Homo sapiens: one gene and its partners. The protein of the gene in region 2 purifies or fractionates together with the protein of the main gene of each other region. This does not show direct contact. Each region holds a gene or a part of one and is shown on either strand. Other genes may lie near its edges. The genes, in order: GAPVD1, SNX24, FNBP1L and LONRF2.

Evidence for each region.
Region 1: the proteins of SNX24 (region 2) and GAPVD1 purify together in Homo sapiens (affinity purification with mass spectrometry; 2 studies listed by BioGRID and IntAct, with this or other methods). This does not show direct contact.
Region 3: the proteins of SNX24 (region 2) and FNBP1L purify together in Homo sapiens (affinity purification with mass spectrometry; 2 studies listed by BioGRID and IntAct, with this or other methods). This does not show direct contact.
Region 4: the proteins of SNX24 (region 2) and LONRF2 purify together in Homo sapiens (affinity purification with mass spectrometry; 2 studies listed by BioGRID and IntAct, with this or other methods). This does not show direct contact.

What each region holds. Positions count from the first base shown.
Region 1 is NC_000009.12:125,299,791-125,306,825, forward strand, and holds part of GAPVD1 (GTPase-activating protein and VPS9 domain-containing protein 1), read left to right. Parts: intron 1-2,192; coding exon 2,193-3,036; intron 3,037-5,272; coding exon 5,273-5,359; intron 5,360-7,035. UniProt on the Homo sapiens protein: Acts both as a GTPase-activating protein (GAP) and a guanine nucleotide exchange factor (GEF), and participates in various processes such as endocytosis, insulin receptor internalization or LC2A4/GLUT4 trafficking.
Region 2 is NC_000005.10:122,841,238-122,848,612, forward strand, and holds the start of SNX24 (sorting nexin-24), read left to right. Parts: upstream 1-4,375; 5' UTR 4,376-4,396; coding exon 4,397-4,456; intron 4,457-7,375. UniProt on the Homo sapiens protein: May be involved in several stages of intracellular trafficking.
Region 3 is NC_000001.11:93,542,110-93,549,144, forward strand, and holds part of FNBP1L (formin-binding protein 1-like), read left to right. Parts: intron 1-1,997; coding exon 1,998-2,107; intron 2,108-4,732; coding exon 4,733-4,865; intron 4,866-5,237; coding exon 5,238-5,332; intron 5,333-7,035. UniProt on the Homo sapiens protein: Required to coordinate membrane tubulation with reorganization of the actin cytoskeleton during endocytosis. May bind to lipids such as phosphatidylinositol 4,5-bisphosphate and phosphatidylserine and promote membrane invagination and the formation of tubules.
Region 4 is NC_000002.12:100,284,502-100,291,536, forward strand, and holds part of LONRF2 (LON peptidase N-terminal domain and RING finger protein 2), read right to left. Parts: intron 5,920-7,035; coding exon 5,757-5,919; intron 2,563-5,756; coding exon 2,413-2,562; intron 1-2,412.

The DNA of each region.
Region 1 (7,035 bases), on a different chromosome or scaffold from region 2:
TGGGTGGATCACGAGGTCAGGAGTTCAAGACCAGCCAGGCCAAGATGATGAAACCCCATCTCTACTAAAAATACAAAAATTAGCGGGGCATGGTGGCATACGCCTGTAATCCCAGCTACTCGGGAGGCTGAGGCAGGAGAATGGCTTGAACCCGGGAGGTGGAGGTTGCAGTGAGCCAAAATCGCACCACTGCACTCTAGCCTGGGTGACAGAGTGAGACTCTGTCTCAAAAGAAAAAAAAAAAAAAAATATATATATATATATATATATATATATATATATATATATATATATATATATATATGTATTTCCATGTTTTGATATTGTATAGCTATTTTTCGGGTTTAGAAACCACATTTTATTGTCTTAATACCTACGAAGAACATTTATTTTATTTTTTTTTTTTTTTGAGTTGGAGTCTCGCTCTGTCCCCCAGGCTGGAGTGCAGTGGCACAATCTCAGCTCACTGCAACCTCTGCCTCCTGGGTTCAAGAGATTCTCCTGCCTCAGCCTCCTGAGTAGCTGGGATTACAGACTTGTGCCACCATGCCTGGCTAATTTTTGTATTTTTAGTAGAGACGGGGTTTCACCATGTTGGTCAGACTGGTCTTGAACTTCTGACCTCGCAGTCTGCCCCCTCGGCCTCCCAAAGTGCTGGGATTATAGGTATGAGCCACCCTGCCTGGCCAAGAACAGTTTTTAACTCTAAGAATATCAGTGCTGTTGAGAATATAAGCCAGATGCAAAAGAATACATACTGTATGATTCTATTTGTATGAAGTTCAAAAAGAGACAGGACTGATCTTTGATGACAGAAATCAGAATAATGGTTACTTTTTGGGCTTGAGAGGGTGGTATTGACTGGGAAAGGGCACGTGAAAGCGTTCTTGGGTTTTTAAAATGTTCCATGTCTTAATCTGAGTGGTGATTACTGGGTGCATGTATGTGTAAAAATTGTTCAAGCTGAACACTTGACATTTGTGCACTTTACTGTATTTTACCTCAATAAAAATGAGTTTAAAAAAAAAAAAGAACAGTGCTGTTGTGGGCATTGTGGTTTTTTCCCCACATCTTTTAGGCTTATTTTATTTGGATTTGTTTCCAGAAGCAAAAAGCCTAGTTAAAGGATGTGATTCTGCAGGTCATTACATACTGGCATGTTGCTGTTGAGAATGGTTGAGCAATATGCTGATATCGACTTCATTTTTATTATTTTTTAGTACTTGAGTATTTGTAAACTTTCTTATGTCCATAAATAAGCATAAGCAGTTTAACTGTAGCTGATTTTTTTTTTTTTCAGACAGGATCTGGCTGTGTCGCCCAGGCTGAAATGCAGTGGTATGATCTTGAGTCACTGCTGTCTCAAGCTCCTGAGCTCAAGCGATTTTCCCACCTCAGCCTCCTGAGTGCTGGGCCTACAGGCACACGCCACCACATCTAGCTAATTTTCATATTTTTTTGTAGAGATGGGGTTTCACCATATTTTCCAGGCTGGTCTTGAACTCCTGGGCTCAAGTGATCCTCCCACCTTGGCCTCCCAAAGTCTGGGATTACAGGTGTGAGCCACTGTGTCCTTCCTGTAGCTAATTTTAATTTAATCCATAAGAGGGCAGCTCTGGACAGTTTTTAGGATCTACAAACTGATAATTTTCTTTCTTTCTTTCTTTTTTTTTTTCCAGACAGAGTCTTGCTTTGTTGGCCAGGGTGGAGTGCGGTGGCATGATTGCAGCTCACTGCAACCTCTACCTTCTGGGTTCAAGTGATTCTCCTGCCTCAATTTTCCAAGTAGCTGGGATTATAGGTGCCTGCCACCATGCCTGGCTAATTTTTGTATTTTTAGAAGAAATGGGAGTTTCGCCGTGTTGGCCAGGCTGGTCTCGACCTCCTGGCCTCAAGTGATTTGCCCGCCTCGGCCTCACAAAGTGCTGGGATTACAGGTCTGAGCCACCGCACCCAGCCCCAATACTTTTCATTGATTCTGATTTGATAAGAGGAAATTGTCCTTTGTACTTTTTAGTTTTGTTGTCCTTTACTCATTGAGTTGCTGTTAGTTTAAAAAATTTTAGCAATTCAGAGTGACCTCATTGTTGGGACCATAATCAACTCACATATCCATGTTTGGATATAGTATATGTGTTATTATTATTAATACTATTATTTTGCTTGTTTGCTCTTTTTTTTTTTTTTTTTAGTGCTGAAGCTTCCCCTGCTGAATGTTGCCAACATGCCAAAATTTTGGAAGATACACAATTTGTTGATGGGTATAAGCAATTGGGATTTCAGGAGACTGCTTATGGAGAATTCTTGAGTCGATTGAGGGAAAATCCTCGTCTTATTGCCTCCTCTTTGGTTGCTGGAGAGAAACTTAATCAGGAGAACACACAAAGTGTTATTTACACAGTTTTTACCTCCCTGTATGGCAATTGCATCATGCAAGAAGATGAAAGCTACCTCCTTCAGGTTTTGCGATACTTGATTGAATTTGAACTTAAAGAAAGTGACAACCCTAGGCGACTTTTGAGGAGAGGAACTTGTGCCTTCAGCATCTTATTTAAACTTTTTTCTGAAGGACTGTTTTCTGCCAAACTTTTCCTCACAGCCACTTTACATGAGCCAATTATGCAACTGCTTGTTGAAGATGAAGATCACCTGGAAACAGATCCAAACAAGCTAATTGAGAGGTTCTCTCCATCTCAGCAGGAAAAACTCTTTGGAGAGAAGGGCTCAGATAGATTCAGGCAAAAAGTTCAAGAAATGGTGGAGTCCAATGAAGCAAAGCTAGTGGCTTTGGTGAACAAATTTATTGGTTATCTCAAACAGAACACATATTGTTTTCCACATAGTTTAAGGTGGATCGTGTCTCAGATGTACAAAACCCTCTCCTGTGTAGATAGGCTGGAAGTTGGGGAGGTCAGGGCAATGTGTACTGATCTCCTGTTGGCCTGCTTCATTTGTCCTGCAGTTGTCAATCCAGAACAATATGGAATAATTTCCGATGCTCCTATTAATGAAGTAGCACGATTTAATCTGATGCAGGTATGCTTTTGCTATTATTATTAACGTGGCATTTAGTTTAAAATTCAGTTGATTGGGCTGTGGGGGTGGGAACAAATAATACGATGACAGTATTTGTATATTCTTACAACTTTTTCTCAACCAGTCCTAAGTATTTGCATCTTATTAAATAAAAGCAGTAATACTGGGATTTAAAATTATTGCGGTCACAAAACATTTTGTCTTTGTCTGTTTTTTGAGACAGGGTCTCACTCTGTTGCCCAGGCTGGAGTGCAGTGGCGCAATCTCAGCTCACTGCAACCTCCGCCTCCCGGGTTCAAGCAATTCTCCTGCTTCAGCCTCCTGAGTAGCTGGGATTACAGGCGCACACCACCGCCCTGGCTAATTTTTGTATTTTTAGCCATGGGGTTAAAATTTAGGTCAGGCTGGTCTTAAACTCCTGACCTCAGATGATCCGCCCACCTCGGCTTCCCAAAGTGCTGGGATTACAGGCGTGAGCCACCACTCCTGGCCTTGGGTGATTGTTAAAAAATGATTAGCTCAAGCTGGGTGTGGTGGCTCTCACCTGTAATCCCAGCACTTTGGGAGGCCAAGGTGGGTAGATCGTTTGACATCAGGAATTTGAGACCAGCCTCAGCAACATAGTGAGACCCCCAACTGCCCCATATCTATTAAAAAAAAAAAAAATTGGCCGGGTGCGGTGGCTTACGCCTGTAATCCCAGCACTTTGGGAGGCCGAGGCGGGCGGATCACCTGATGTCCAGAGTTTGAGACCAACCTGACCAACATGGAGAAACCCCATCTCTACTAAAAATACAAAATTAGCCAGGTGTGGTGTCACATGCCTGTAATCCCAGTTACTTGGGAGGCTGAGGCAGGAGAATTGCTTGAACCCGGGAGACAGAGGTTGCGATGAGCTGAGATTGCACCGTTGCACTCCAGCCTGGGCAACAAGAGCGAAACTCCGTCTCAAAAAAAAAAAAAAAATCAGAAAAAATGATTAGCTGTTTTTAATGATCAGTTATATCACCTTGGGATGTTTAGCAATTCACTGTATAGAAATGCCTGAAATAAAATTTTTAACTTTTTTTAATGTTTATAAATTTAAAAAAATTATAATATGGAACACTTCACAAATTTGTGTGTCATCCTTGCACAGGTGCCATGCTAATCTTCTCTGTAGAGTTCCAATTTTAGTATATGTGCTTCTGAAGCGAGCACAAAATTTTTGACATGAAACAGTAGGTTTTTTTTTGTTTGTCTGTTTGTTTTGAGATAGTCTCACTCTGTCACCCAGGCTGGAGTACAGTGGTGCCATCTTAGCTCTCTGTAGCCTTTGAACTCCTGAGCTCAAGTGACCCTTCTGCCTCACCCTCCTGAGTAGCTGGGACTACAGGTGTGTACCAGCACACCTCGCTCATTTAAAAAATGTTTTTGTAGAGACAGGGTCTTGCTTTGTTGTCCAGGCTGGTCTTGAACTCCTGGCCTCAGGTAATCCTCCTATTTTGGCCTCTCAAAGTGCTGGGATCATAGGCGTAAGCTACTGTGCCTGGCCCATGAAACACTTAAATTTATTCTTATGGTAGATAATGTATTTGTAGTTTTTTTTGTTTGTTTTTTTTGTCATTCCAGTAGAGATCAAATTACATATTTTCAGAATCAGTAAAAAGGGGGCTTGTCCCAGATATTAAGAAGAGGATGTTGTAATAACTTTCATCATTAGCCTTTAAAAAGAGTGCAGTAACAAATTTTGCCAGTAAGGTACTTGTTCTATGAATTAGTATTTACTTTATCAAACCAGCTTATGTTAGGAATCATTTGCTTTTAAATCTAGGGAAAAAATTATACCTTGATTGCTTTGTGAACGCTATAAGGTAATGTTCTTAATATTAACTTAAGGCAATTTAATGAATGAGTCAGCTTTTACAAATTAATTTAAAAAGCTCTAAACAAATGAAAAGTACAATGTCAGAAACAAATGTATTGTGCTTTTTTTCCCTAATGTTGATATCTTATGTGTTAAAGAGAAATTAAAGCAAAAATTTATACTTTCTCTAACTCTTAATCTAAAAATAGTAAAAGCTGACATAAGGTACACATTTTTTGGGGGATACTATTTCATATGCCTGGTCAGGTGATATGAATAGTATTATGAAACAGATTTTTAGAACAGAATAGACGTGCTTGCTTTCATAGAGACGTATTTGTGAGTATCTGTCTGTAGCTTATGTCTCCCTACCACTGCTTTGGGTTGCAGGTAGGCCGCCTTTTGCAGCAGTTAGCAATGACTGGCTCTGAAGAGGGAGATCCCCGAACAAAGAGCAGCCTTGGAAAGTTTGACAAAGTAAGAATAAATATGATTTATAGAAAATTCTGAAGTATTAGTGAGCCTAACTGTTCTCTTTATTAAATCTTGTCCTTAGGTGATATCTAAATTAAATGTTCTTTTAATTAGCTACAGTATTGGATCAGCAGCATTTAAAGATGATTAATTCCCACAGATGTATTGAGGAGATGCCGTCGTAAGAGAATCAAAGAGCTGTTAAGATTATTTTATTTTAAAAAGTTTTTTTTTTTTTTTTTTTTGAGATGGAGTCTCGCTCCGTCGCCCAGGCGGAGTGCAGTGGCATGATCTTGGCTCACTGCAACCTCTGCCTCCGGGTTCAAGCAACTCTCTGCCTCAGCCTCCCCAGTAACTGGGATCACAGGTGCCTGCCACTACACCCGGCTAATTTTTGTATTTTTAGTAGAGACGGGGTTTCACCTTCTTGGCCAGGCTGGTCTTGAACTCATGGCCTCGTGATCCACCTGCCTCGGCCTCCCAAAGTGCTAGGATTACAGGCGTGAGCCACCGCGCCTGGCCAACTTTTAAATTTTCGAGTCAGTGTCTCACTCTGTTGCCCAGGCTGGAGTGCAGTGGTGTGATCATGGCTCAAACTCCTGGGCTCATGCAGTCCTTGCACCTTAGCCTCCCAAGTACCTGGGCTATAGGGGCACACCACCATGCCCGGCTAAGTGTTTTTATTGTTATAGAGACGAGGTCTTGTTATGTTGCCCAGACTGGTCTTGACTCCTGGCCTCAAGTGATCCTCCTGCCTCAGCATTCCAGCGTGCTAGGATTACAGATGTCAGCCACCATGCCTGGTCGATAATTGTTTAATTTTAAGTGTAGTTTATAAGTTAACATCTATGACATTGTTCAATTAATATAGTTAAATAAAATTTTAATCAGTCTTACTTTGATTAAGCTGTACATTCAACCAATGAAAATTCAAGGATATTTGAGTAAAATTTCCCTTCCACGTCTCATCTCTAGTCTTCATTCCCTGCCCCCACAAAACATTCTTTTTTTTTTTGAGACAGAGTTTCCTTCTTGTCACAGAGGTTCGCTGTTGTCACCCAGGCTGGAGTGCAGTGGCGTGATCTCGGCTCACTGTTAACTCTGCCTCCCAGGTTCAAGCAATTCTCCTGCCTCAGCCTCCGAGTAGCTGGGATTATAGGCGTGAGCCACCACGCCTGGCCCCCAAAAGATTCTTGATGTTATTAGGTTGTTTTTCCTTCTAGAGGTCCATATGTTTACAGGCAAATTCCTACGTACACTATATACTTCCAACCATCCCTTCCTTTCCCTTTCAGAAATAGTAGCACAATGTGTATACTGTTCTGTGTTGTGTTATGTTTGTCTCCAACATCTTATTGTTATTTTCTTTTTTTTTTGAGACAGGGTCTCACTTTGTCACCCAGTGATGCCATCTCAGCTCACTGCAGCCTCGACCTCCCTGGCGCAAGCAGTCCTCCCACCTCAGCTTCCCAAGTAGCTGGGACTGCAGGTGCGCGCCACCACACCTGGCTAATTTTGGTATTTTTCATAGAGACAAGGTTTTGCCCTGTTGCCCCAAGTGGTTTTGAACTTCCGAGCTCAAGCAGTCCACCCACCTTGGCCTCCCAAAGTGCTGGGATTGCAGGCATGCACTACCACACCCAGCTCCAAGATCTTAGACTATATCAGTACAAAAAGAG
Region 2 (7,375 bases):
ACACCCGGCTAATTTTGCATTTTTAGTAGAGATGGGGTTTCTCCATGTTGGTCAGGCTGGTCTCAAACTCCCGACCTCAGGTGATCCAACTGCCTTGGCCTCCCAAAGTGCTGGGATTACAGGTGTGAGCCACCACGCCCGGCGGGCCAGTCAACTTCTAATGCAAAGATTGTTTCTTTTTCCCTCTCTAGAGGAAATATTCTCCAGATGTAGAGGGAACAATGGATCTTCCTGATTCTCAGTTTTTACCAAGACTCCTTATTTTAGCCAATTACCTTCCATTCTAGAGGTACCTATTGTTCCTTTTGTGGCGCCTTTTGAGTATTGTGCTGTGTAAATCAGGTTGGTTCTGTTTTTCCTGCTGTTGGTTTAAGATTGGGATTTCTCGTTTGCTAAAAATGTTTCTTCCCTTCTATCTGCTTTTCAGCTGACAAATGTCTTGCTCTCTCCTCTCCTATTTTTTCTATCTCTGTGGGTTTTTAAAAAAAGGGAAAAATTACTTGCGTTTATACTGGGGCTAGAAGGTTGAAATTAGTTATATATTTTCAATTTGCTATCTTAACTCAGAAACCTGTACAACAGTCCGGGCGCAGACACAGTGGCTTATGGCTGTAATCCCAGCACTTTGGGAGGCCGGTGGGGGTGAATCACTTGAGGTCAGGAGTTCAAGACCAGCCTGGCCAACATGGTGAAACTCTGTCTCTAAAATACAAAAATTAGTCAGACGTGGTGGCACGTGCCTGTAGTCCGAGGCAGAAGAATCGCTTGAACCCAGGAGGTGGAGGTTGCAGTGAACTAAGATCACGCCATTGCACTCCAGCCTGGGCGTCTCAGCAAGACCTCATCTCAAAAAAAAAAAAAAAAAAAAATCTGTACAACAGTCTTTTTAAATGCAACTCATATTTTTTTTTTTTTTTTTGAGACAGGGTCTTGCTGAGATGCCCAGGCTGGGATTACAGCCATGAGCCACTGTACCCGCGCCTGACCTGTTGTACAGGTTTCTGAGTTAAGATAGCAAAGGTATCTGAAGCGTTTCTTTCCAAATTTTTGCTCATATTGAAGTAATTCTTTTTTAAAAACTGCCAGTACACTAAAAATTAATGTCAGCATTTCTGAAACTTAACTTTCCTCCTTTCACTACTTTCTCATTTCTTCTCTCCTTCATTAACAGAAAATCTGCTTTTACCTCATCACATCTAAATCCTCCAATTTATGCCTGTCCCCTCTCTCTTGCCTTCATTTCTCTCAACGTAACCTTCCCCCTTGATGTTCTCTCAAAGCAGATTGTTAAAGAAGTGAACCCAGCCCCTTAATTCTTTCTCTCATATGCTCTTTTGCCCTTCTGCTATGAGATGACCTTCACAGATGCCAGGGCCATGTTCTTCGACTTCCCAGGTTCTGAGCCAAATAATCTTCTATTCTTTATAAATTACCCAGTCGGTGATATCCTGTTCCATCAGCAGAAAAGGGACTAAGACATTAATCTATCAAATTAAAGATATTTCTTGCTACTTCTAGCCTAAGAATTTGTGTGAATAGTTGTACTGTTTCATTAATTTTTTCCAGAATCTATTGGGATATTTTTTAATCTGACAATATTGTGAAATACATCAAAAGATGTCCTAATGTTTAGCCATCTTTACATTTCTGGGATAAATCTTACTTTGTCATGATGTATTAATCTTATAACTGAATGCTGAACGTATAATATATTCGATTTACATTTTAGTCAAAACTTCTAAATGTTAGTGTTAAAGCAGTTTATCTCAATTTGTTGAAGTATATTTCTACCCAATACTAAGTAAATGTACTTTTAGTGTAAGAATTTTATGCCCAGATTCCAGCAGAATTTTGTTATTTTGCTCCTGAAAATTGTTTGCTTCTATTAATAGATACTAACTGTTCAATGTTTTATATTTGTATTTAGCATGCATTTTTATTAATGTTTTGAGGAAAAGATATTTAGCTGGCCTGTTACAGACTGTAGAGTTGGATTAAAAGATAACATAGGAACAACAGGAAAATACATTTGCCATGTTCTTTTACTTTGGTGCTCTATTCTCCCTTTCCTCGGTGGCTGGAAGACTCAGAGAATTTGGTTAGAAATTTAGTTCTTCTAATTATTAGCTAGTAATTTCATACTTACTCTCCGTGAGCCTGAATTACGCCATCTATAATAACTGAAATCGTAACAATTACCATTTATGGCTGGGCTAATAGACCCTCAAGAACACACCCACACATTGATAGTTTGTATACATTTTCAGCAAGGGAAAAGTAAATTATACACAGCTATTAGTGGAATACAGCAAATGGATATCATTTGGACCATTTATCAGACCTTCATGGAATCACACATTTCTGCCTAAGTCCAACAGGTAAATGGGTGAGCCATGCCATTACCAAAATATATATTTTAGGCTACTAACAGGTTGTAGGATATTATGGAAAGCATATTAAAAACTTGATTCTTGGGAGGCTGAGGTGGGAGGCCCTTGAAACTCATGTTGTGTCTTATCATAACGCTTCCTCATGTGACTGGTTTTTTGTTTTGTTTTTGTTTTTTGAGACAGGGTCTTGCTCTGTCACCCAAGCTGGAGTGCAGTGGCGTGATCTCGGCTTACTGCAGCCTCCGCCTCATGGGTTCAAGCAATTCTCCCACTCAGCCTCTCAAGTAGCTGGGATTACAGGGGTGAGTAACCACCCTGTAATCTGGCTAATTTTTGCATTTTTAGTAGAGACAGGGTTTCATCATGTTGGCCAGGCTGATCTCAAACTCTTGACTTCAGGTGATACACCCACCTCGGCCTCCCAAAGTGCTGGGATGACAGGCATGAGCCACCGCGCCCGGCCATGTGATTGTTATAGAGATGAAATGAGACATTATGTGATACCGAACATAGTACCTGCTGCATTCCACTAGTTTTGTAAAGACGAGTACTTACGTAAGTTACGTGCTGGGTACTATGCCAACCACGAGATGACGAGTTTTTAAAAGCATGCTTGCCCTAAAACCTAGTAGGTAGGGTAGATAAATAAATCATACATACAGTGTATAGTCACCAGAGGCTTAAGGTAACCTACAAGCTGGGCTCTGAACTCAGATAGCTTATCGTCCGCAGAGCTGGTTAGTTACCTCAGGAGGTGCTGGCCAGAAGTGAAAGAAAGGTGTGTAGTCACAGGGCACAGCTAAGGCACAGTTTTGAGAGAAGGGCACATCCTGGAGCTGCAAATGTGTGAGTGCTGGGTTAGGAGGACGGATCTTCAGATGAGACTAATGTAGAGGGGTCCACATCAGGTAAGTTCCTAAAACGAGAAGCTGCCTTATCCCTCTGTTGCACGGCTCAGGGTCCCATCATAAAGTCTAGAGTTTGCTAAGCTGAAATGTCCTCTGCACTCAAGGACAAACGGAGTTAAGTGCAATTGTTTACAGTCCAAGAAAGCTCGCTGGCTGGTTTTTTCCTGGATGGCTGAGGTCACTTCTCAGTGACCTACAAGTCACGTCCACGTTTCTATTCTGCTCGGTGCGCTAACCTAAAGAAGAAACCCAACGTTTACTTGACTAACTTGATAATCAAGCCTCCCCCGCCGGGACACTTAATCTTTTAGGTACCTTCAGCCTACTAGACCCTGGTCCGAGGCACGGGTTCAGTCCTTTTTTTTTCCGTATTCTATTTTTCCCTCACAGTTAAAAAGTACTTCACAGTTAAAGGCGGCATTTTAGAACTGCAGCGTGAAGCCAGAGCGTTTGTCTTAGTGACCGGCCAACTTTCGGGCTCACTTTCGAGCTCTGTGGTACACCACCATTCTCAGATTCGACGTCTAACTCAGGAGACGCTGACCTTCGAATCGAAGGGAATTCGGAGAGTCTTGGTATAAGCCGGCTGGTTCACCGCTGTTAATGCCAGCCGAGAGGGAAAAAAAAAATTCAACCAACCAAAACAAAAGTTAAAAGCGCCACTCTTTCTATTCTTTGCTGTCTGGCAATCTCTTAATGGTGGCGTCTAGCAAACTGCAAATCAAGCTCCAGCCGGAGTCCGCAGGGCAGGGAGCGCCGGGTGCGGCCCAGTCCCCGCGCCCAGCGCGTTGGCGCGCACACCCCGTTTCTGCAGACTCAGGTTTTCTGGCCCCGCCTCTTTCGGGCCCAGCTGATCTCCACCGCCCGTTAGGCCCGAAACCCAGGCGCCTGGAGCCCTGCGCCCTCTGCTTCCGGCCCCCGGCACGCCCAGGGCGCGGGAGCGGCCGGGTCAGCCCGCAGACCTGAGTCCGGCCCGCAGCCTCGGGGCCCCGCGGGCGCAGCGGGGCGGGAGGCGGGGCGGCCCGGCCGTGGGCGGAGCGGCGGCCGCGGCCGTGAGCCTGCCCCCAACTCGCCCTCAGCCGGCTGGCCGGCGCGGCCATGGAGGTCTACATCCCGTCCTTTCGCTATGAAGAGAGCGACCTGGAGCGGGGATACACGGTAGGCGCGGGCCGCGGGCGGACAGGGCCCCGCGAGCCAGGCCTGCGGCTGCTGCGCCCAGGAAACACCCTTGGCCGCCGCCGCCTTGGCGCAGGGGGTCCCCTCGTTTTCTCTCCCCTCCCCCGGCCCAGAGGAAGGGCTGCGCCCTTGGCGCGGTTGTCAAGGAAACGGGCGCCCCTCCCGGGCACGGCGGCTGCGGGCGCCCCTAGCCCCTCGGGGTCCAACCCTCTCCTCCCGGACGAGCTGCAGTCCTCGGACGCGGCACTAGCCATTCTCCCCGCCGCCCGCCTTCGGGAGCCCAGGATGGGCTGCGTTCCTTTCTGGCACAGCTGCCCCCTCAGTCCAGACAGTAGTAGCTTCGCGGCAGATTCACGCTGGCTTCCAAGTTCTGTACAATTAGTTCAGCTGGAAAACCTGTTTTTTTTTTTTAAATCATAATTTGCAGCTGTTTATTAGCCAAACTAAACACGTGTATTGATTTTAGATGATTTCCAAAGATTTTTCTTTTTGAGTTGTGCAGTTCCATGAAATGGCAAAATTACTTGCTGAGCACCTGTTTCATACCTAGGACTGTGGTCACCGAGAAGTGTGAAACAGGACCCCTGCTCTCAAGAGTGAAGGGGAGGGCAGAGACCAGGGCATGGGCCCTTTGAGCAACACGTTTACTAAGTGAATTGTTGGTGGAGATTTCCCAATGAATTCAAAACATTCTTTCCTGGACAGTCATTGCTAGTGGGAGAAATGTCTGAGTGTGTGTACACCTTGGAAGAATTTACTTCCAGTTGTTAAAGAACCTGTAGGGTTGAAGAAAGATTGCAGGGCAGTCTGAAAGATTTGTTATTTTATTTACATCAATCACACACTTGCTAAACACCAGTTACATTACTTTGATGGAGAATATTTTAACCCCTCTCCCCTCCTCTAAATATTACTGGTATTTGGTGACAGTCTGTTTGGGCCATTGTGTTTTCTTAGTTGGGACTAAATTACCCTCTCAAAGGAAGATTTAGAATGAAAAACAGTGATTGAAAAAATAGTCCAGGAAGTCGGTGGGTTTTTAGAATTGAGTAGACTGCTGGATCCAAGTGTTCTGAAACAAGTTGTTAAAGTGCTTTCCTTGGGAAGGAAAATGCAGGGAGAGGGAGCTGTGTTCCATAGTGGTAGTTATTTATATAAATAATCCTTTCCAGTGCATTCACATTTCGTTAAATAGTCTGTATCTTCCTTAAAAACAAACAAACAAACCCTCGAGTTTGTTCAAGGCTTTTTTTTTTTTTTCTTGGAGATTTTATCCAAGTCTCTTAAGCCTAAAACCTTGCTTGTTGTTGCTTCTCCCAGGTATCTCACTTCTCCCATCAGCACTATCAACAGTCATGGAGGGCTTACCATCTTTGGGACATTCATTTAGGATCTGAAGATAAAAAGGCTGCTTGTTAGAGGCGTTGGCTTTCAAAGAAAAGATGAAGTTGATCTTACCGGTTCAAGCTAAAAGTTAATTACCTGCAGAAATAAGCACTTTGAAATAGACCATAATTAAGGCTCATTGCCCATTGTTGATTTTCTTCTATTAGACGAGCTGTGCTTTTCTCCCAAAGCTTTATGTATCTTTTTATTATTTGTATTTATGACCAGGCATGTGCCACACTCCAGGTTGTGAATTAAACTGATGTGGAAGGAGCTCTTTTTTGGACAAATTCGGGAGAGTTTGAAGATTGCTTATGTGATGAGAGTTTGCTCTTTAAATATTTGCTTAAAAAAAATCCTAACTCATCCAGATTGGGAGCTAAACTGTTAAAATCTCTCTCTCTCTTTTTTTTTTTGAGACAGTCTTCCTCTGTCACCCAGGCTGGAGTGCAGTGGGGTGATCTCAGCTCACTGCAACCTCTGCCTCCTGGGCTCATGTAATCCTTCCACCTCAGCCCCTGGAGTAGCTGGGACTACAGGCACATGGCACCACTCCTGGATAATTTTTAAATTTTTTGTAGAGACAGGGTTTCTCCATGTTGCCCAGGCTAGTCTTGAACTCCTGTGCTCAAGCAAACCATCTGCCTAGGCCTCCCAAAGTGCTGGGATAACAGGCATGAGCCACCACACCCAGCCCTAAAATACCTTCTGAAGGGATTTTTTTGCTTCTGTGAGTTTGTGAAGCAGTTATTAGATACTTTTCCCCTCTGCACAACTGGTTTTATGATTGTACAGCGGTTTTTCATTCAACAAATATTTACTGAGTGCCTGCTCTGTGTCTGTATTCTGGGTGTAGGGAATATAGCAGTGAATAAGCTATGAATATAGCAGCTTAAAAAAAACCCCAGAATTTAAAAAATATTTCAGTTTCCTAAATAAGAAGCTTGTAAAATAATGTACACTTTCGTGTAAAAAATATCTTTTTACTTTAGCGATTATGTTTGTGTGAATGTGTGTTTTTAAGAGCTAGGATCTTGCTCTGTCACCCAGGCTGGAGTGCAGTGGCGCAATCCTAGCTCACAGCAGCCTTGGACTCTTGGGCTCAAGTGATCCTTCCCCCTTGGCCTCTTGAGTAGCACAGGCATAAATCACCACAACTGGCTAATTTTTGTATTTTTTGTAGAGATGGGATCTCACTATATTGCACTGGCTAGTCTCAAACTCCTAGGTTTAAGGGATCCTCCCACCTTGACCTCCCAAAGTGCTGGGATTATAGGCGCGGGCCACTGAGCCCGACCTGTGTTTGTGTTTAAAATTTAAAACGGCCGGGGCGTGGTGGCTCATGCCTGTAATCCCAGCACTTTGGGAGGCCGAGGTGGGCGGATCACTTGAGGTCAGGAGGCGAGACCAGCCTGGCCAACATGGTGAAATCCCATCTCTACTTAAAAAAAAAAAAAAAAAATTAGCCAGGCGTGGTGGCGGGCGCGGGTAATCCCAGCTACTTGGGAGGCTGAT
Region 3 (7,035 bases), on a different chromosome or scaffold from region 2:
GGCATATATATATACTAGTTTTCAAAACTTGTACTCCTTTTCTGTAATCCCAGCTATTTGGGAGGCTAAGGCGGGAGGATTGGTTGAGCCCAGGAGTTCGAGGCTATAGTGAGCCATGAGAGCTATGATCACTCAACTGCATTCCATTGTGGGCAACAGAATGAGACCCTATCTCTACAAAAAACCTTCAACTCCAAAGTAGATTAAATATGACAAATTTATGTTGCAAATTAACCAGTAAATCTAAAGGAACTCAACAAAGGAAATTTCACCATTGATTTATTTAGGCCAGATTGGGTTGATTGATATCCTTGTTTCTGGTGATTGGTAAATGAAAAAAAAAAAAAAAAAAAAAAAGCAACACTTAGGATGCCCTACTTTTTTCTAGCAAGCTTGTTGAATATCCATAATCTACAGGCCACTGGGGAAAGAGGCTAGGGATTCTGTTATTAATTAAATGTTACATTTAATTATAGCTCATCCTAGGAGTGAGTTTTCTCTTTTCTGAAAGTAAGTGACTCATTCTTACACATGGTGAAATAAAGCTATTTAGCATATGTTACAGGCATAAGTGGCCCAAAGAGCAAGATCGTATTTGTTTTGAGAGCTCCTTTTAGCATCACTTTAACAAATTTGAATATTTATATTCTTTTTTCTTTTCTTTACCTTTTTTTTTTTTTTTTTTTTTTAAAAGACGGAGTCTCGCTCTTGTCGCCCAGCCTGGAGTGCAATGGCGCGATCTTGGCTCACTGCAACCTCTGCCTTCCGGGTTCAAGTGATTCTCCTGCCTCAGCCTCTCACGAGTAGCTGGGATTACAGGCGCCTGCCACCACGCCTGGCTAATTTATTGTATTTTTAGTAGAGACAGGGTTTCATCATGTCGGCCAGGCTCCAGTCTGGCCTCAAACTCCTGACCTTAGGTGATCCACCCGCCTCAGCCTCCCAAAGTGTTGGGATTACAGGCGTGAGCCACTGCGCCTGGCCTTATTCTTAGAATAACCATTTTGAAAAGAAAATGAATAGTGACAGGCATCATCAATTTCTGGAGTATATATAAAGATTTAAGTAATATAGGTTTATATTAAATAGATTCAATAGCGGCTAATATTGGTTCTGTTGTAATCTGTAATATAAGTAACAGTGATTAAAATAACATTTAAGGGAAAAGGTGTCATTTGGATCAGATGTTTACGTTTAAATACTAGTACTTTTTCTTAAATTGCATAGTTTTTTGAATATCAAAACTTTAAAAAATTTTCAGACATCAAGGATCTTTCCTAAAGAAGGATTTTATCCTTCTTTCAGTAACAACTGAGGTATGTTATTTGGTTTACAAAAGGTTAATTGAAAATATACACTTGTTTGAATATAATTTCTGCTCAGTGGATAGTTCTATCTTTGGTTTTTAATGACCAGGTATGTTTTGAATGGTTTAATCAGTTGTTCAAAGACTATATGTAGTGTTAAAGTATATTTCATTAGATTGTCTTTGTGAGGTAAGTTTCTTAATTATATTCATATTTTCAGTTTGAACATTTGTAACATTCTGAATGTCATGGCAATGGGTTTTATTTGGAAATGTTGTGATATGTTATATATAAAACAATACCCTGTATAGACAAGAATGTTACGTGTTTCCATTTTGTTGTTGTTGCTGTAAGAAGGTTTACATGTATTCATTATAACTCTGCCAAGATTTGAAAGTAATGTGATACTACCTACCAGTTATCTGTATCTGGGTATGATTTTACTTATTCTGTTTCATGGTTTTATAAAATGACTGAAATTTGAGCTCTTTTCTTCAGTACATTGTTTTCATTAACATATACGCATAAACACACACATCTGTGTAGATTTCTTTTTTTTTTAAGGGGTTGCTTGAGGCAAATTTGAAATTAAACTTAAGATTGGTATGTATTCTTATTTTATAGCAGGTATATTTTAAAAATAAAATTTCCCGAAAATGTCTATTATAATGATTTAGATTCTCTTTTCAGGGCCCAGCACTAGAAGATTTCAGTCATCTGCCACCAGAACAGAGACGTAAAAAACTACAGCAGCGCATTGATGAACTTAACAGAGAACTACAGAAAGAATCAGACCAAAAGTATTATTCCTTTAAGTTTTCTCTATCATTATTATTTTAGGATCTACTTTGAGTGACGCCCTTAAATGTGATATACAGAAGGTTTAAAAATCATATATCCTAATTGAAATATCTTTTGAGAGAGAATTATACTCCTACCCTGGAAATTTTTATGGTTACCCTGTCATAGGTTAGAGAATTTCCTTGGTTGCAGATTTTTATTGAATGCTAATATGCCTTCATTAATTTGCAAAAAATTTCTTGATATTTTATTATCAAGAGTAGTTTCATCAGCACTACCTCTTATACTTTGATATATTTTCATTTTGCTTTTATATATAAATTGATTTCATTAGCAACCTGAGGCTATTTTGTAGCAAAACATTTGGCAAACGGTGCTTGATTACTGACGGCTTCATATTTGTTCACACATAAGTTTACTTTTTTATTTCATTTTTATAAGACGTTTCCTCTAGTTTAATTTTTTAAAAATAGACATAGAAGAATTATTCACGATCATTAAAGTGTTATTACAATGAATTGGTGACTTGCTATGTCTTCACTTACGATAAAATTGGGGCTTAAATTGTAGCATGAGAGATTGAAGTTTTGATGCTAAGAATTAGTGTATCAGGTGTGATGTGGCGCTTAATCATAATGAAATATTTGCACTACCTTTGATTCTCATTCACAGTAGCTGTGTTCTGTAAAGTCACTGTGAACACTAAATTATGGAATACTGAAACATTGCTCTTAGGGAGATACAGGGTTAGGTTCTAGGTAGCCACTGGTCACAATGTTTCAGTCAGCTGATTGGCACATAACCTTTTTTTATTTGTGTTTCTGTGTAAAAACACCTTATTTCATATATGATGTTGATTTATTAACTTTGATTTTTTTCTAATAGCACTGTAACTCATGCTTGAACAAAGCTTATCTAAGATTAGAATTTTCTCTGTAAGGTACAGCCTTCTTGTGCTTCAGAACACTAGACAGCACTTGATTGCCATGCTTAGGGGCTATTTTAAACACCAATATCAACAAAAAGCATAAAAATATGAGAAACATTGCACTAAATGAGTAGATTGCAAAAAGGATACATGTCCAGAATATGAGAATACGAGCAAGAAGGCCAGAGTGTCACTGGTTTGACCACAGTTTAGAACTTGAATGTACCTCTGGTGACTCAAATTTTCCCAGATATCTCCATGTCCAAAACAAGAGTAAAGGCACAGAAATGTGAATGTTCTTGCCATGGACTGGAATTAGTGCTAATCCAGAGAGACTTGGTTAAAAATTATGTGGAACATAATAATAGAAGTTGAGGATGAAGAAGTATAGGACTTGTGAAAAATTCTGAATGCTTTTCTGTGAAGTTCTGTAGGTACTACAGTCCCCAGTTATTGAGAGAAGGGGTAACATTATTAGCTCTGTGTGATAAAAGATAATTGAAAACTGTATGAAGAGTAAATAGTATAGGAAAGAGATTGGAGGTAGAAGCCTTTAACAATCCAGGTGAGAGATACTGAGGGCCTAAATTAAGGCATGACCATGGGAATAGAAAGGAGGAATAGATAAAAGAATCATTTCAAAGCCAAAGTAGGTTGTACTTTCACCTGATTGGATGCTGGAGAAGAGAAAACATGGAGGAAGCTTAAAAAAAAAAAAAAGATTTGTAGCTATAGATTTAATTGCAACAATAAGAAAAAAGTTTAGGGCAAAGATAAAGATTTTGTTTATGTTGATTTTTGAAATGTGAAAAATCCATATTAGAAGTGTCCAGTTGGGTTTAAAGATATGAATCTAGAATTCAGGAGAGAGAGGTCTGGAGATATGCATTTGAAAATCATCTGAAGATGGATGATATTAAAACAATTAAGAGATCATCCTCCAACAAGACTGTAGGAAGAGACGAGAAGAAACCTTTGTCATTTTATGTAATACACATTTAAAGGTTGAACAAAGAAGGAGAAAGAAGGCAGTGAGGGAGATTGTGAGAAAGCAGAGGTGAGGAGGAGGGAAAAGAAAATGTAACCTATAGGAAGTCATGAAGGAAAAGAGTATTAAGGAGTGTTAGTCAATAGTGTCAGATGTTAGAGTCAAGGACAGCTAATTGAGGCACAACCGATTGTAATATGATTAGAGAATAGGAGGTAGGTTGAGAGGAATTGGCAAATGACTGACTTTGGGTGGGGGCAAGTTAAAGCTGCCATTCCTATTTCTAGCAGAGGTGAGTGGGAGGACAATGATGATGTATGAGCTAAGGAACACTGTGGAATAGTGTGGCTGAGTTGGAATATAATGAGTTTGATTTGGGACATGATGAGCTGAAGAATATTCTTCCAGCCCTTGATTTTGTGTGTGTGTGTATATGTACATATAAATAAAATTCCTTGTTTAGAAAGCAGGAAGTAAGAAATGAACTCTGTTCTCTTTTGGTATTCTGATTGTCTTCATAAATTAGTAACTCTATATGTTATCACCTTTATGCAAATTGTCTTTAATCAGGTCATGTTAGACAAACTTAAAAAGATGTGACTCTACTTAAGATTAAGCTGCGTACGAGTCCCCAGAGTCCAATAAAACTCTTTTATCTGGAAGCATATGAAGTTAATATTTAATTCTGGGGTTCCTTCTCTTTTTTAGAGATGCACTCAACAAAATGAAAGATGTATATGAGAAGAATCCACAAATGGGGGATCCAGGGAGTTTGCAGCCTAAATTAGCAGAGACCATGAATAACATTGACCGCCTACGAATGGAAATCCATAAGAATGAGGTAGATTTGTTATTCAGCACTTGTCAAGATAAATTATTTTTATAAACTTCATTATGATAGATTGGTTTTTGTTAGAATTATCTTCAAATGTTTATATTTAATGTTAGGGTTTATGATCTAAAAGTATTATTGTGATGTGTGTTATTTAATCTCATTAAAGTTTTTTATTTAGACCTTTATATAAGATTAAACATTTATACTATTTTTTTGAATCAGCTATAAAGTTGATCCTTTGACCAGTTTGGAATAAAGGTTTCACATCTCTAAGAATTACATAATTATAAAAACTTAAACACATTTTAAATGTAGATATCTTATGAGCTTTTAAACATATTTATTGAGCTCAGTTGTTTGCTTATTTTTTTTCCTAAGGCTTGGCTCTCTGAAGTCGAAGGCAAAACAGGTGGGAGAGGAGACAGAAGACATAGCAGTGACATAAATCATCTTGTAACACAGGGACGAGAAAGGTGATTTTTTGTATTTTATTTGTATTTCTTCTCCCCAGAGTTTTCTCACCCTTTTGTCCTAAACTTTATACAATTCGTTTTTTTCTTCCAAATTTAACAAGTTAAGCTTTTAGTAACCTCAGTCTTTTGAACCTAAGTAATTTTCTTTAGTGATAATTACAGGTGAAGTAGGAAAGTTCATCTTGCTATTCAATCCTAGTTTGTCATGCATCCAAACACAGAGCTAGGAACATAGAAAATTCTTGGAGCTACAGTCTGAGGGCCTAGGCTCCTCGGGCATGGGAAGGTTTCCTAAGGTTCAAGTGGAATTAGGGTCGCTTATGCCAAAGAAAAATTTTACTATCAAATAGCTCAGAGTTTTGTGAAGAAAAAAAAATGTATTGTTAGTTTGGACCAGAGCTTCCAAAAGACACTTTGCTAAGTTTCTGTACCACTTGTGACATTTCTTTCTTGATGTATTATATCTTTTTTTCCAGACTAAAAGTCCACAAATTAGGATTCACCTTAGAGAAAAATGTGAGAGGCCTAGTAACAACTCTTAGTTTTCTACTTAATTACAGTGTAATCTGAGCAAGTTCATTTTTAATGCTCCCTAAGTCTCAATTTCCTGAAATATAAAATGGAGGTTAAAATATCCACCCTTTAGGTTTGTTAGTAAAAAAGTAAATAATACACATAAAGCACCTAGTAGTAAATAGTGGTAATAGTAGTATCACTTCTTGAAAGAGTACATATCTTTAATCTGTTAAGAGATACCCACAAATTACTGGTTTTTGTTATTAGGTAAAACTCAGATTAAAAGGATCTAATTTCTTTGGCATGTGTTATTTCTCTGGCTTCCAGGCTTACTGAAAGTACTGTTAAAATCTAATTCTGTAAAATTTTCCATTATTAAATCTAATTCAGTCATTTGATTCTTCAGCAAAATTATTAACATTTTTCTCTGATTTAAAAAATTTTAAGAAAAATAAATTGTGTTTGTATTACCTGCTTTTTTGGATTTTTTTAAGTTACCAACTTCCCTGTTACCATGATTAGTTGGAAATTTACTTTACTTTTTATTTTAGTTGAGAATCTTTTAATTTTCAGTGACAGAATGAATACTTTACCCATGCTGGCTTAAACTAAAAATGGACTTCATTGGCTGACTTCAGGGAGAGCTTGATCTAGGAGCTCAGATGTTATCCCTAGGACTCAATTTCTCTCCACCTCACAGCTGTGCTTTCTACTGTGTTGGCTTCCTTTTAAGGCTCCAAAGCTCTAGGCGAGTATTCCTGCAGGTTTCGAGTCCAGTAGAAAAGGGACAGAGTGAATTCTCTTCGAAGAGTCCCAAGCAAAAGTTTCTGTGCATTTCTTAAATCTGATTAGGTTACAGGACTTCTTGTGAACTGGTTATATAGATGATTGCTCTGATGGGCCACTCCAGATTCAGAATAGAAACAATCCACCTGAAGCGTGTGAACTAAACATGGATATGCATGGATCCCTTAAGGAATTTTAGGATGATAAATTTGGGATGATGGAAGACAAGGGTCTAGAACGTTTTTCTGTTTTATGTCTAGACCGAGTGATAGTGAGGTGTATTTACTGAATAATACTTTGTGCCTAGAATATTGTAATCTTGTAATTTTTTTTTAATTCAGGAAATTCAGCAAAGCAGCATTTTGTATTAGAAGTAATTTGTATACTTGACATTTGAAAAA
Region 4 (7,035 bases), on a different chromosome or scaffold from region 2:
AGATGAGGGGAAAGCAAGGTTAACACTGGAAATGCAAGCCTGTTCCCCAACACAGTCTTTTGCTCCACCAACAGACACGTGAGCAAGAATTAAATGCCACCTTGTATTTTAGGGCTAATTCACAATTCATTCAGCTCTCAAAATACATAGTTTACTTTTATGGTACACATTTAAAGGTGGGGGAACTCACAAAAGGAAGAGCCTGCAAAGAGAAGCATCTTCCATGGGGAGATTCTATGAATTAGTTGCTTCTGTTCTCTCAAGCTTTCAGTTAAGAGTATATACCAGTCAGAGGAGAATACTATCACTTTAACCTTCACTTTCCAATGTTCTGTGCTATTATTTTTTATGTCTTAAGCATGCCATATAAAGCATAATATTATAAAGGCTAAAAGTATGTGTACAAGTTTGAGTGACATACTCAATGTGGCAAATGAGTGTATGTATGAAACATATATATGTATGCATGTCATATGCAAGAGTTATCATAAATTATATATATAAGAATTATTATGCCACCAAATAACCTTTATTTCACATAATCAAACAAAGCACTTCTAGACTAAGTGCTAGGCAAAAGCCGATCATAAACTCGTTCTCAATATTCTTAGTACTGGAACCAAGATATCCAGGCCTTTTTGTTTCCAGGGTCTAGGATTCTTCACTCTATTCCTTCTCCAAAAATGTGCAGGATGCCGATAAGAGCTGGGAGGGTGAACTCTGGAGTCACCTTAGTTTAGGGTGAGGTAGATTATGCTGGAGGACTAGGAATAGCACTGTGGCCAAAGCTCACCAGGGGTAGCCCAAGTCACTGTGAGGAAGACATCAACCTGCCCTTCAGAGGTAGAAAGGCACAGATGGAGAAAACAACCTTTTATACAGATTCACACTCTTTTCCCTGCCTCATCTCACAGAGAAAGAAAAAAACTGAGTAGCACGCTTAATGGGAAGGACCTCATATAAAAATTGATGTATTACCTAAAATCCCTCTGTAGTCATGAGAAAAATGGTCCCCCATATGGTACCTTATATGGCAGAGGGAATTGGAGGATGTGATTCAGTTAAGGACTTTGGGATGGGGGGATTATCCTGATGGGCCCAATGTGTTCATATAGGGTCCTGTCTGGGCTGTGGTCAGAGGGACATGTGGCTTTGGAAGAACGGTCGGAGAGAAGCAACATTGCTGGCTCTGATGGAGGAAGGAAGCCGAGGAATGCCGCCAGCCTCTACAAGCTGCAGAGACAAGGAAACAGACTCTCCCCCACAACCTCCAAAGAGAAACGCATGCTGCCATCACCCTGATCATAGTCTGGCCTGCAGAACCAGGAGTGAAAGATAATACATATGTGTTGTTTTAAGCCACCACGTTCGTGAAATTTCTTAACAGCAGTAGTAGGAAGCTAATATACCCGCCAAGTAGAGATTGATTAATTTGGTTAATAAACAACAACTCCTAGGAAAAAGAATGACTCATATCCTAATGCAAGTCAGTGTAACCACCATGCTTTCTGAATCTGAGTTCCAGGATACTGCAGAACAAAGGCTTATGCAAAAAGGGCAAGCCAGGAAGGACTTAATGGCAATTTCTGGCAGTTAAAGCATTTTTCTGTGTTTGGAAAAAAAAAGAATTCAGGCAGGGGGTAAAAGATAGAAGCTCCAAGAGACAGAAAAAAAAAGTTAAAATGGATGGGAAAAGACCTTTCACATCACCCTAAACCAGCTGAGAGCCAATCCCCCTCCCCTACTGTCTTTGACAGCTGAGCATCCATGTACAGGTGGGAGGTATACACTCTCAGGCACAATCTTAAACCAGCCCAGCCTGGCTCTCCCATCTAATGCAGAGGAGAGGCCCACCTGAGCTTAGAAATGCTCCACAAACCTAAGCTCATTCATTGCTTAAAGAACCAGCTTCACCAAAAGTACTTGTAGGGAGCACCAGAGAAAGCCCATGACAGCTGGGCAGCAGGGTACTTAGAGGACAAGGAAGTCACGCTACTAATGTCACAAGAATGATGGGATTTTTCTCTTCACTTATTCAACATCTCTATACCAGGTGCAAGGCAATGCTATGCGCCAAACGTGGAATGTTCATGCCAATACAATAAAGTTACTACTTAAATTTTAAGATGTGAGTGAAAGAAGCAAAAGGCTACAAAAGCTGACAGCCAAGCAGAATAAACTGATTGTTGTTAGAAAAGAAATTATGTTCTGTTAGAGAGCCTTTGTTGTTTTGCTTCACAAGTCATGTGCTACCACAGTAGGTGCTCCTTTGGGCTGTTAGTAGATGAACTGGTTCATAAGCAACCACATTGGGGTAACCAGCATCATACTGCCAAGCTCTCCACCAGAATGATGGCTCAGCACACTACAGCAGGAAGTAACAGAATTATAAAGGAAAAAGGGAGGGCATACCTGAGGCTCAGGTTCTCTGTCTGGCATTACCCCAAAATGACTTAAAATTTGTTCTTTCATGCGATCCTGGAGAGACGCGAACCAGGAAACAGACTGTTGATGCACAGAATCGTGGAGAGCGGCAAGTTCTTCATACTCTGGACCCTCCACCTGATCAGGGAAAGAGGCACAGCTGTGTGAACCATTCACAGTAATGCACGTAACACAGTCAGCGACCTCTGCACCTCCACTAAGTGGATTTGTGGCAGTTAGCATTTTAATAATTCATCAGTTTCACAAAAATGGTACATGCTCAATATAGAAATCTGCATTTTTTGCATAGTTGAAATCTATCAATTGTATCCTGATTTTTCTCTTAATACCATAATATAAGCACATTTCCTGTAATTTTGAATAATGTTCAATGGCTGCATGCAATTATATATTTGAGATACATGCCAATTTACTTAACTATTCACGTAAGTTATTTAGAATATTCTAGCTTTTTTATTTTTAAAAATAACACAATAATATAAACATTTATGGAAAAGTTGTTTTGTTTTGTTTTGCTTTTTTGACAAGGGAGGGAGGTATGGTTTCCTCAGTGTAGTTTCCTAGAGACCTTGACAGAATTACCAAGTCAAAGGGTGACATTTTAAAAATTGTATTCCATATCACCAAACTATATTCCTAAAGGCACGACAGGGCAAGACTACACTCATTACATTGGCCTGGGCTGATGGACTCCAGCTTGTGGTCGGCCACAGCACCTTAGACTGACCAAGCTTGGCCTCTGGTCCCTATGTCACTATCACATCTGTCATTTAAATTACGCCTCAGTCCTGTTCAGGAACACCTGGTAGAGGAGGAAGAGCATGGGACTGGGAATCACGGGGCCAGGGTTTGGTCTGGCTTCATCACCAACTCTCATGTGTGAATCTAGCCAGTCTCACAGCCTCGTTAGGGCAGAGTTTTCTCATCTGCATAATAGGAATAAACCATGAAGGTCCTTTCCTGTTACAAAATTCCAGTACCTACAAAAACTACGGTGTGCTGAGAAATTATAATATAATGCATATACCACCCTCAATTTGATTTATACAAATCAAATATTCATATGTGATAGAGGATTTTCTTATAAAAATAAGCTAAAATTATTTCATGTTGTAGCTATTTAAGCCCCCATTTAAAATAAGCGCATACACTATTAAAAGCTGTCATCTACAACAACGGTCAATAAACCCTGCCGTCAGGTCTATCCATCCCACAGAGAGACCCTGAGAATTATCACTTTCAGCTGTAGCTTTGAAACCCAGCTTTCTGGTCCAGCCTGGGAGCTGGGCTCCCTGCTCTGCTCCCATGCACTGGGATGACCAGAAACAGCAGCTGGAGGAGGCACAGAGACAGTGTCCTGGGTGTGACTCCATTCACAAATCCTAAGTGTACACCACTGCCCCCAAAATGACTTCCAGTGTGATGTGGGGTGGCTACGTACCCTCACTTCCACAATTCCAAATGTCAACCAAAGAATTTAAAAGAGGGATACAATAATTCCAAGGATTTCCTCCTTTTAAGTATTTTAAAATTTCTTGCTGCAGTATAATTTACAGACCAAAAAGTGCATAGATCTTGTTGAGCTCAAAGAGTTTTCTCAACTGTATACACCAGTCTGACCATCACCCAAAACCAGATAGACATTTCCACTACTTAGAAAGATTCTTCACCACTCCCTCCAGTCAATTACAAAGCCAACCCCACAAGCCTTTTCTGACTTCTGTCCCCAGACTCTAGTTTTGCCTGTTCCTGGAAGTATACAGATGAAGCCACGCGGTATGTGTTCGTCCTGTGTCTGGCTTCTCTCACTTAGCATAATGTCTGTGAGAGTCATCCATATTGTTTCATGCACGAGTGGTTCATTTCTTTTTATTGACAGGTAGTATTCCATTGCATGAATGGACCACAATGTGTTTACTGACTCAAGTGTGATCAGCACCTGGGCTGTTCCTGGTTTGGGGCTATAATGGAGTAAGACTGTTATGGACATCCTTGTGTAAGTCTGTTGGAGAATCTCTCAAAACATTTTGCTAATTTGTCAAATTATATGTCCTGATATTTCTATTAGACACATGAAAAAATTCTTAAGGGTTAATAAATTCAAGTCTTTTATATTTAGCTTTGGGAGGTATTTTTTAAGTTGTAGATTTTGTCACATTCTGAATTAATACCAACCTAGAGAACAGGGACTGACAGACTGCTGTTCATGAGTCAAACCGTGCTCACCACCATGTTTCCGGAAGTCACATTTAACGGAAACCAGTCATGCTCATGCCTTTACACATTGTCTATGGCTGCTTTTGCACTACAAGGGCAGAACTGGGTAGCTTCGACAGAGACCACATGGCCTCTGGAGTCTAAAGTACTTATTAGCCGGCCCTTTACAGAAAAAGTTTGCCAGCTCCAGGGCTACAGCATCAAATACAAATCAAAAGCCTATTTTGCAATGCGCAGGTTTACATGTTGCATAAGTACAATAAGGTCTTTTTTTTTTTTTTTTTTTTTTTGAGATGGAGTCTTGCTCTGTCGCCCAGGCTGGAGTGCAGTGGCACGATCTCAGCTCACTGCAACCTTCAGCTCCCAGGTTCAAGCAATTCTCCTGCCTCAGCCTCCCAAGTAGCTGGGACTACAGGTGCCCGCCACCACACATGGTTAATTTTTTTATATTTTTAATAGAGCCAGGGTTTCACCGTATTAGCCAGGATGGTCTCAATCTCCTGACCTCGTGACCTGCCCACCTTGGCCTCCCAAAGTGCTGGGATTACAGGCGTGAGCCACCATGCCTGGCCAGATCATTTTTTTAAAAGGAGATTTCTGTACCAGCTCCCAACTCAGGTAAAAATCCACTGAGAAAATAAATAACTGCTGAAGGCAGGGGCTCATGCCTGTAGTCACAGCACTTTGGGGCTACTACACTTTGGTTGAGGTGGGAGGACTGCTTGAGCCCAGGAGTTTGAGACCAGCCTGGGAAACACAGGGAGACTCTGTTTCAACGACAAACAAAATTTAAATTAGCCATGTGTGGTGGTGTGCACCTACAGTCCCAGCTACTCGGGAGGCTAAAGCAGGAGGATCGTTTGAGCCTGGGAGGTCAAGGCTGCAGTGGGCCAAGATCATGCTGCTGCACTCTAGCCTGCACGACAGAACAAGACCTTGACTCAAAAATAAACAAATAGATAAATAAATAACTTAAGTGATGAATTAAGGACTTAAGTAATATTGTCAGTACAAGTTTGACAAAGCTTTTCCACAATGCAAAGGGAAGCGAGAGGACCGACTGCTATAAAATACACCAGTATGATAAGCCTTACCTTTTCATCTTCAAGATATTCAATGTCCGCTGTGTTATAGCCATCTCTGTGGCGGTGGCTTAGCACTCGGAACCGACTGATGCCAATCGCGTCTACAACAGAACTTCCATCAGGAAACGTTCTCACGTCCTTAATCTCCAGCATGCATCCATACTCTGAAAGCCTGAAAAGACAGTTAGGAGAAATGACTGTGATTTTTAAAATGCAGGGGGCCTTCTTTTTCCCTGGATGAGAGTTTACTTTTAAAAGGAATACAAAGCCACACAAAACAGTGTCTCCACATCAGACCAGCAAGGTTATTGTCGCTAAGAGACACGTGCACATGGTCGCTTCTGTTAGATGTTAAATATAGTGGTGATGGTGGCTGCAGGGGAAGGGCTCCAGGTGAGACAGGACTTGTGCCTTAGCGGTTCCAACGGGCTAGTGTTTTGGGAAGGACCCGAGAGATGGGAAGAGATGAAATCTCAAATGTGGCTCCTCAGCCACCTTGGCGGGGCACCATCAGGACTGCCCAGCTGGTGCCACGCACACACTCGGCTTTCCAAAGCTCTCCCCAGCTCTTACCCACACTCCGATTGTAACTATCACCCTTATCCTAGTGATATTCTCATGCTACCACGTGCCAAGCAACACACGGAGCAGTTTATAATACATATGAATTCAAGCCCACACTTAAAATTTGATTCATCAAAAGTCAACAAAGTGAAAAAACAAGCTATGAGTTCCATGTGCACTGAGAATATAGAACACTAAAAAGAATGTGAAAAACGACAAGGAAAACCAGATAAACCACAAAACATATGTCTCTTGAACCCACCAGAGGGTGGAGATTGCTCAGGGTAACCAAACAAAGATCCCACAGGGAGAGAGTAGGCAGAACCCAGGAAGAGACACAAAAGTGTGTAGGAAGCATTCAGCTATTTTTTTTTTAAACAAATTGCCAATGACCTTGTGTGGGCTGGCACCAGAGTGCAGGTCTGGAGAGCTGCACTCACAAAGGGAGTTTGCATCACACACAGGATCCTGTCCACAGATAAGAGCCTCCTTGATGAGTCATGCCCTGCAGTGAGGCAGGCTTGGAGGAGCTGACGTTTATCTGGAGGCCTCTGCTGGTGCTGGTTGCTGGGGCAGCAAGTCCTCCACCTTCAAAGGCACTCCGCTCCTCCTCCCTCCTGCCTTCGCCCACAAGGTCTTCACCTCATTCCAATTCTGCCAGCTCTGCCCTCCCCAACCAAAGTGCCGTGGAAAGCAGTCCCCGGCCACTGCCTTCATCTCCTTG